2 linked regions of the Homo sapiens genome follow. The protein of the gene in region 1 purifies or fractionates together with the protein of each later gene. This does not show direct contact. Each region holds a gene or a part of one and is shown in the gene's direction. Other genes may lie near its edges. The genes, in order: ZNF3 and SMC2.

Region 1 (3,822 bases):
TGGACTCCTGTCTCTCTTCCTCCACCCTGTCCTCCCTTCCTCCCTTCCCAAATGTGCATTTTTCACCCCATCCTCAGTGATTTTTTTGGTGCCGCCATTCACATTCCTCACCCTGAAATTGCATGCCAGCACGTGTTGTTTCAGGAGCTGGTAACCTTTGAGGATGTAGCTGTGTACTTCATCCGGAAGGAGTGGAAGCGTTTGGAACCTGCTCAGAGGGACCTCTATAGAGATGTGATGCTGGAGAATTACGGGAATGTGTTCTCACTGGGTAAGGAGTTATGCCTTGTCAACAAAACTCGCTGGTGTTTCTTTGCTTCTTCGTTTGCTAGTAACAATCTAGTCACTGAAAAGAGCTGTTTCAGCAGATTTTTTTTTTGAGGTGCAATGGCACAATCTTTGCTCAGTGCAACATCCATCTCCCAGATTCAAGTGTTCCCAGGTTCTCACCTCTGCCTCCCAAGTAGCTGGGACTACAGGCACGCACCACCACACCAGGCTAATTTTTGTATTTGTTTTGTTTTTTTTTGTTTTAGTAGAGACGGGGTTTCACCATGTTGGCCAGGCTGGTCTCAAACTCCTGACCTCAAGTGATCCACCCGTCTTGGCCTCCCAAAGTGCTGGGATTATAGGCATGAGCCACTGCACCTGGCCTAGGTAAGGATTGACTTAGTCTTAGGAAACTGTAAGAACAATAATCTTAACTCATTTATACAGCAGTCTGCAACTTATAAAGAGTTCTCATATATATTCTTTCATTTAATCTTCACAGTAACACATTAATTGAGGCAGCTAGTATTATTCCTCATTTTACAGGTAAGGAAAGTGAAAGTAGTCCAGGCGAGGTGGCTCACACCTGTAATCCCAACACTCTGAGAAGCTGAGGCAGGAGGATCACTTGAGGTCAAGAGTTCAAGACCAGCTTGGGCAACATGGCGAGACCCTGTCTCTACCAAATATCCAAAAAATTAGCCAGGCATGGTGGCACATGCCTGTAGTCCCAGCTACTTGGGAGGCTGAGGTTGGAGGATCACTTGAGCCTGGGAAGCCGAGGTTGCAGTGAGCCGAGATGGCATTACTGCAGTCCAGCCTGGGTGACACAGACCCTGTCTCAAAAAATAAATAAGTAAATAAAGTGGAGGTGAGAGTAGCGGTCTCAATGTCTTGTGCATGCATGGTCATCAGTTGGGCTGATGAGTGGCAAAACTTGGGGCCCAGTCTTTAACTCCAAATCTGGTACCTTTTTTTTTTGAGATGGAGTTTCACTCTTGTTGCCAGGCTGGAGTGCAATAGCGTGGTCTCGGCTCACCGCAACCTCTGCGTCCTGCGTTCAAGCAATTCTCCTGCCACAGCCTCCTGAGTAGCTGTGATGATAGGCATGCGTCACCACACCCAGCTAATTTTGTATTTTTAGTAGAGACGGAGTTTTTCCATGTTGGTCAGGCTGGTCTCGAACTCCTGACCTCAGGTGATCCACCTGCCTCGGCCTCCCAAAGTGCTGAGATTACAGGCATGAGCCACCGCGCCTGGCCAAATCTGATACTTTTTCCGTGTTATTCTCAGGACTTAATATATAATCCAGAGACTTTTCCGAAGGATTATCCCTGAACACATGAGGTGCTGCTCTTTGCCCACGTCTCTGTCCTCTCCTTCTCTGCTTCTCTGCTCCCCTTCTCTAACTTCTAGGGACCTGTTGCTTTGTTCAGGACCTAGTGCCCCTGCTGCTCTGTAGAAACTTAGAAAGGTTAAGAAATTAGGCCAGGCGCGGTGGCTCATGCCTGTAATCCCAGCACTTTGGGAGACTGAGGCGGGCAGATACTGAGGTCAGGAGTTTGAGACCAGCCTGGCCAACATGTTGAAACGCCATCTCTACTAAAAATACAAAAAAAATTAGCTGGGGGTGGTGGCATGTGCCTGTAATCCCAGCTACTTGGGAGGCTGAGGCAGGAGAATTGCTTGAACCTGGGAGGTGGAGGTTGCAGTTAGCCAAGAACACGCCACTGCACTCCATCCTGGGCGATAGAGTGAGACCTTGTCTCAAAAACAAAAACAAAAAAAGAAAGATTAATAAATTAGTTTCTCAACTTTTAGGATGTAGAATTCCTTGTCTCTCACCCCACTCTTAGTGGGCATTTTCCTGAGCAGAGCCAGGACGTCTTCCTAACTCTCATTTGAGACCTTCCTGTACATTTCCCTTCTGTCCCCGGCAGATCTGGGGTCTGGAATTGAGCTCTGGGACTCTCAGGGTGAGCAGATAAACCTCCTTGTCCCATGTCTCTCCCCATGAGCAGAATTCCCATTTCTGAATCCTGCCACCATCTCTCTGCTAGAATGAGAGGAAGAGCCAAGGGGCCTGGGTTTCAAAGGAACTGAGAGCAGAGAGGTCCTAAGAGGTACCTCTTCAGGTGAAGGAGAAACAGCCGTTCCCGTCCCTAACACACATTACCCTGTCTTTACTTTTTAAAATATCAATTAAGCTAAAAACGCAAACTCTCTGGACCCTTTACATTTATCCTCTGTGCCCAGAGTTGGCTTTAGAAACTCAAAAGGAGTGAAAACAGAGACGTCAGACACTGAGATTCTTTGCATAGCCTTACGTGCGAGCATAGCCTTTTATGCATAGGGCCCAGAGGCGGACTCAGTTGTCTTGCCGTTTCCATGGGCTTGGCATTTGTGGCGTGACGACAGCCATGATTGCTCTTCTTATGGGGCCATGGCAGCCACTAGCATCCTCCCCCTTGCTTGTTCCCGCGCTGCTGCTGTCTCTCCTCACCCTTCCCCCCTTTTCTCACCAACTGTCCTGTACTTGCTCTCCCTTCTTGCAGTCACTGTGTCCCCAGTTATATCCACTGCCCTGACCTCTCTAAAGGCTTTGTCACTTCATTAAGCAATATGACCTTCCTCTTCTAAAGTTGGTTCCCTGCCTCTCTGCCTGATCCGTCCTCCCCTCCACACACACTCAGCTTTCTTTCCACTTCCAGCTCTGTTCTCCTTGGTTTTGCTCTGCCCTGCCCCTTCCCTGTCTCCTTAGCCCGGCTGTCTCATTTTGCCTTAGCCGCACACATGTGGGGCAGGCCTCTTTGTAGGCATGTGCTTTTGGCACTGTAAGTATTCGTTACAATGATCCTGTCCTGTGATTTTCACTCTTTCTTCCCTAAGGAACAAGTGACATTTGCATTTTTTATTGTGTCAGATCGTGAGACCAGGACTGAAAATGATCAAGAAATTTCTGAAGACACAAGATCACATGGGGTCCTACTGGGAAGATTTCAAAAGGATATTTCTCAGGGTCTCAAGTTTAAAGAAGCCTATGAACGAGAAGTCAGTCTGAAAAGGCCGCTGGGGAACTCCCCTGGAGAAAGACTGAACAGGAAAATGCCAGATTTTGGTCAAGTGACAGTTGAGGAGAAGCTAACCCCCAGGGGAGAGAGAAGCGAGAAATATAATGATTTTGGGAACAGCTTCACTGTGAATTCCAACCTTATCTCACATCAGAGACTCCCCGTGGGAGACAGACCCCATAAGTGTGATGAATGTAGCAAGAGCTTTAATCGAACTTCAGACCTTATTCAACATCAGAGAATCCACACTGGGGAAAAGCCCTATGAATGTAATGAGTGTGGGAAGGCCTTCAGCCAGAGCTCACACCTTATTCAGCATCAGAGAATCCACACTGGGGAAAAACCTTATGAATGTAGTGATTGTGGGAAAACCTTCAGCTGTAGCTCTGCCCTCATTCTGCATCGGAGGATCCACACGGGGGAGAAACCCTATGAATGTAATGAGTGTGGGAAGACCTTCAGCTGGAGCTCCACCCTCACC
Region 2 (3,822 bases), on another chromosome or scaffold:
AATTGTAAGTAAGATTGCTAGATTTTCTTTTTTCAGGTCTGGTATCTTGCATAGTGTCAGCTATCTGGTAGTATTACTTAAAAGGTGTTACATAATAGTAATACTTTTTCTGAAACTATTTAATGCTCAAATTTTATGGCTCTTGACAGTTTATAAAATATTTTCATATACATGCTCTTAATTCTAAAATCTCTACTTTTAAGCTAGTGTAGGATGTCTGTTATTTCAGTTTTACAGCTTTAGAAATTCATTTTTAGTCCCTTCAAGTGATTTGTTTAAATCTGCAATTATTATTTAGCCCAATGTCTCATGGATTTAATTTATAACATGGAATGAACCAGTAGTATAAGAGTTATATTTATTCTAAAAACTGAGAGTGAATTTCAAAATGATAATTCAGTATTTATAAAGTTATGATGGTTAAATTATTTTATTATGCTCACTCCAAATTGCTATGGAATTTTATTACATAAGGGTATGCGTATAAGAAAGTGGGTGTTTTTCCTGAAATATAATATTTTTCCATTTGAAACTCTTCCTAAAGGACTCAAAAACTTTAGCAGCAAAGGAAAAAGAGGTTAAAAAGATAACAGATGGACTGCATGCCCTTCAAGAAGCAAGTAATAAAGATGCTGAAGCTCTGGCAGCTGCACAGCAGCACTTCAATGCTGTTTCCGCTGGCCTGTCCAGTAATGAAGATGGAGCAGAAGCAACTCTTGCTGGTCAAATGATGGCCTGTAAAAATGATATAAGTAAAGCTCAGACAGAAGCCAAACAGGTAAATAGAGACATTAGCACTATGTGATTGCTTTTTTTTCCAAGAAGTTTCTTTTCATGTTATGCTTTGGCAATTGTTACATAATGTTGAAAATAATCAGTCTCAAGGAACTTGTTTGTTTACTTTATTCTGCAACTCTAATGCCTAATGCAGCGAAATTCAAATATGTTGATTGCTAAATATTGGTGATGTTAATTTGTGAAGATGCTGTACTACATAAATTATCTTAATTCGGTATGTAAGTGCAATAAATGCTTTGTTCTGTTTGCAGCATTGTGTGGAATTTTCGAGATTAATGCATTTATTCTTGTCTCTTTTTGGCTATTTTTATTTTTTATTGATAACATAATGTTGAAGTCTTAAGCTTTAACAGGAAAACAGGATTGTCCTCCCCATTGCTTTGCCTGCCATACCTAGTTCTTAAAACCTTGTTTCTCAAACTTTACATTTTTTTAGGAAGTATCTCTACCTCACATGTAGCCACATTCTAGTCTGCTCTCCCTACTCTGATTTCATAATCTTAAAAGTCTTGTCAGTCTATTATAATGTTTCTCAGATTTTACATAGTAGTGCAACTTACAGTCCTATGAACATAAGAATTTTGCTAGCAGAAAAAATACATGTACACAGGCACATCATTGTTTTGTTTTTAATGGAAGACACAGATTTTAAAACATGTACACAAATGTGTGTGATTATGCGTTAATCCTCAGGTTTTTCTCTTTATATATTTGCAACTTTTTCATTCAGGCATGACAGATGATAGTCACAAATTTATAAGAACTCTCAATAGTAGAAAAGCTTTAAAGTACTCTACTCTCAGTTTGTCTATTATTTTATAAGGGAACTGGGAAAAATACATCATTATACAGTTTTGGAGGATACCCCCATCTAAAACCCCATCTAGGTTTTAGAATACTAGTTCATAGTTTTAAGAAGCAGTGTTCAAGTGTATAAATTCTTGAAGGCCTGACACATGTAATTTAAATAGTTCTAGCATTTAATTATCAGACTCAGCATTTAAGTTTCTCTGTCAGTTTAGCTTCTTTTCCTGTATAATCTTACGTCTTATTGCTCAATTCAGTTTCTTTACTGTTATTAGATAGCACTCACAAATATATACACATACAAATATGAACAACTAAGCGGAAAGGAAAAGAACGAGAGTTGTGATTTCTAGCGTTCTTTTTTTAATTACCAGCTACTGACAGTTATTCGATATAATCCTTCAATTTGAATATGTCATATTTTATTAAAAATACGGACTTAAATTTCAAATTCTTTTACATATTAATCATATATTAGTTTATACTTTGAGTAGTTTTTTGAGGAGAAAATACTGGGAAATGACTAATTTGTTGAAATACTAATCCAAGAGACCAAACAATTAAACTTTGAAGGTTAAGGTCTCTTAGTAAAACCAATCTGAATCTTCGGCCATTTAATTACTAGCACTGTCTGCCTCATACATCCTATGGTCTGTTGCATTTTTCTGCCACAGGCTCAGATGAAGTTGAAGCATGCTCAACAGGAATTAAAGAATAAACAAGCTGAAGTTAAGAAGATGGATAGTGGCTACAGGAAGGATCAAGAAGCTCTAGAAGCTGTAAAAAGACTTAAAGAAAAACTTGAAGCTGAAATGAAAAAGCTAAATTATGAAGGTTTGCCTTTAAAAACATGATAATCAGATCATGAGGAGGTAGTGATTTTTGATAAAAAGCTAATTTAAATAAAGAACGCAAGCAAGTAGGAAACATTTCTTAGCCTATTAACAAGCATTAGTATAAGAAGTGTTGTAAATATCGTCAAAAAATACCTAATTATAAAACAACTCTTGAATTTTTGAGAACTCAGTATTGAGAATTTCCTGCTTCAATCATTTGAAAGCTCAAAAATGTCATTTGTGTATTTCTACATTAGGCATTCAGTTTGTATGTTATTTTTTGGAATGAAAATTGTGTTATTTGCCGTTGGAAATAATGTCTGTTTGACAGTGGATAGAAATAGGAAGGTTCAGCATGCTTTTTTAATACTTACAGAAATTTGTATTTTTTGCATGCTTTGGAAATAGTGGTTGCTAATATTTTCCTTAAAACAGTAGAGTGAGCTTTTAAAACTTGGTTTTAATTTATTATGATTTATCCTTCAGAAAATAAAGAGGAAAGCCTTTTGGAAAAGCGCAGGCAGCTGTCTCGTGATATTGGTAGATTGAAAGAAACATATGAAGCTCTATTAGCCAGATTTCCCAATCTTCGATTTGCATACAAGTAAGAGACTTAAGCCTTGAATTTTAACATAGTAATAATCAAGACATTTTTATTTAAGCTGGAAGCAGTGTGAAAATTTTGTCGAAACCAAGATTTTTGTATGAAACTTGTTGTAAGCTGCTTTTCTTTCATTGGTATTTTTCCTTTAAACATTTGTTGAAATGTTTTAAATGTTGGCAGGGAAATTCTTGTGAAATTTAATGGCTAATGATGCCACTAATCTTAAAATGAGGGAAATTTAATCTCAGTTCAAAATGTCTTCAGAGTTACTGTATCATTAATGTTAAATATCCACATTTACATCTTATAATTTGTTTTGCTATGTGGGTTTTTTATGGAATATTTACAGTAATCATATGTATTATAGGGATTAGAACATCAGAGTTGTTCTTACTACATTGAAACATACTGAAAGATCTATTGTGATTTAAAAACAACAGCTGGCTAGTCATTTGGGACATTTTAAAATTTTTGGTTTGTTAAAACCATTTTGCTGATTCTACTTTCATTTCACTTTAATGTGTTGTCCAAAAGAGCTCCTGATGAGTAAAGTATAACTTTTTCTACTTTATTATCTAAGATTAATTTTTGTCAACTTTTGTATTTCAGGGATCCAGAGAAGAACTGGAATAGAAATTGTGTGAAAGGACTTGTGGCTTCTCTGATTAGTGTGAAAGACACTTCTGCAACCACAGCTTTAGAATTAGTGGCTGGAGAACGACTCTACAATGTTGTAGTAGACACAGAAGTAAGTTGATTTTAATTTTAAAAAATTTA

Evidence for each region.
Region 2: the proteins of ZNF3 (region 1) and SMC2 purify together in Homo sapiens (co-immunoprecipitation; one large-scale study listed by IntAct). This does not show direct contact.

Annotation. Positions count from the first base shown.
Region 1 is NC_000007.14:100,071,584-100,075,405, reverse strand, and holds part of ZNF3 (zinc finger protein 3), read left to right. Parts: coding exon of another isoform or gene 1-144; coding exon 145-271; intron 272-3,193; coding exon 3,194-3,822. UniProt on the Homo sapiens protein: Involved in cell differentiation and/or proliferation.
Region 2 is NC_000009.12:104,111,037-104,114,858, forward strand, and holds part of SMC2 (structural maintenance of chromosomes protein 2), read left to right. Parts: intron 1-544; coding exon 545-778; intron 779-2,279; coding exon 2,280-2,439; intron 2,440-2,927; coding exon 2,928-3,045; intron 3,046-3,654; coding exon 3,655-3,793; intron 3,794-3,822. UniProt on the Homo sapiens protein: Central component of the condensin complex, a complex required for conversion of interphase chromatin into mitotic-like condense chromosomes.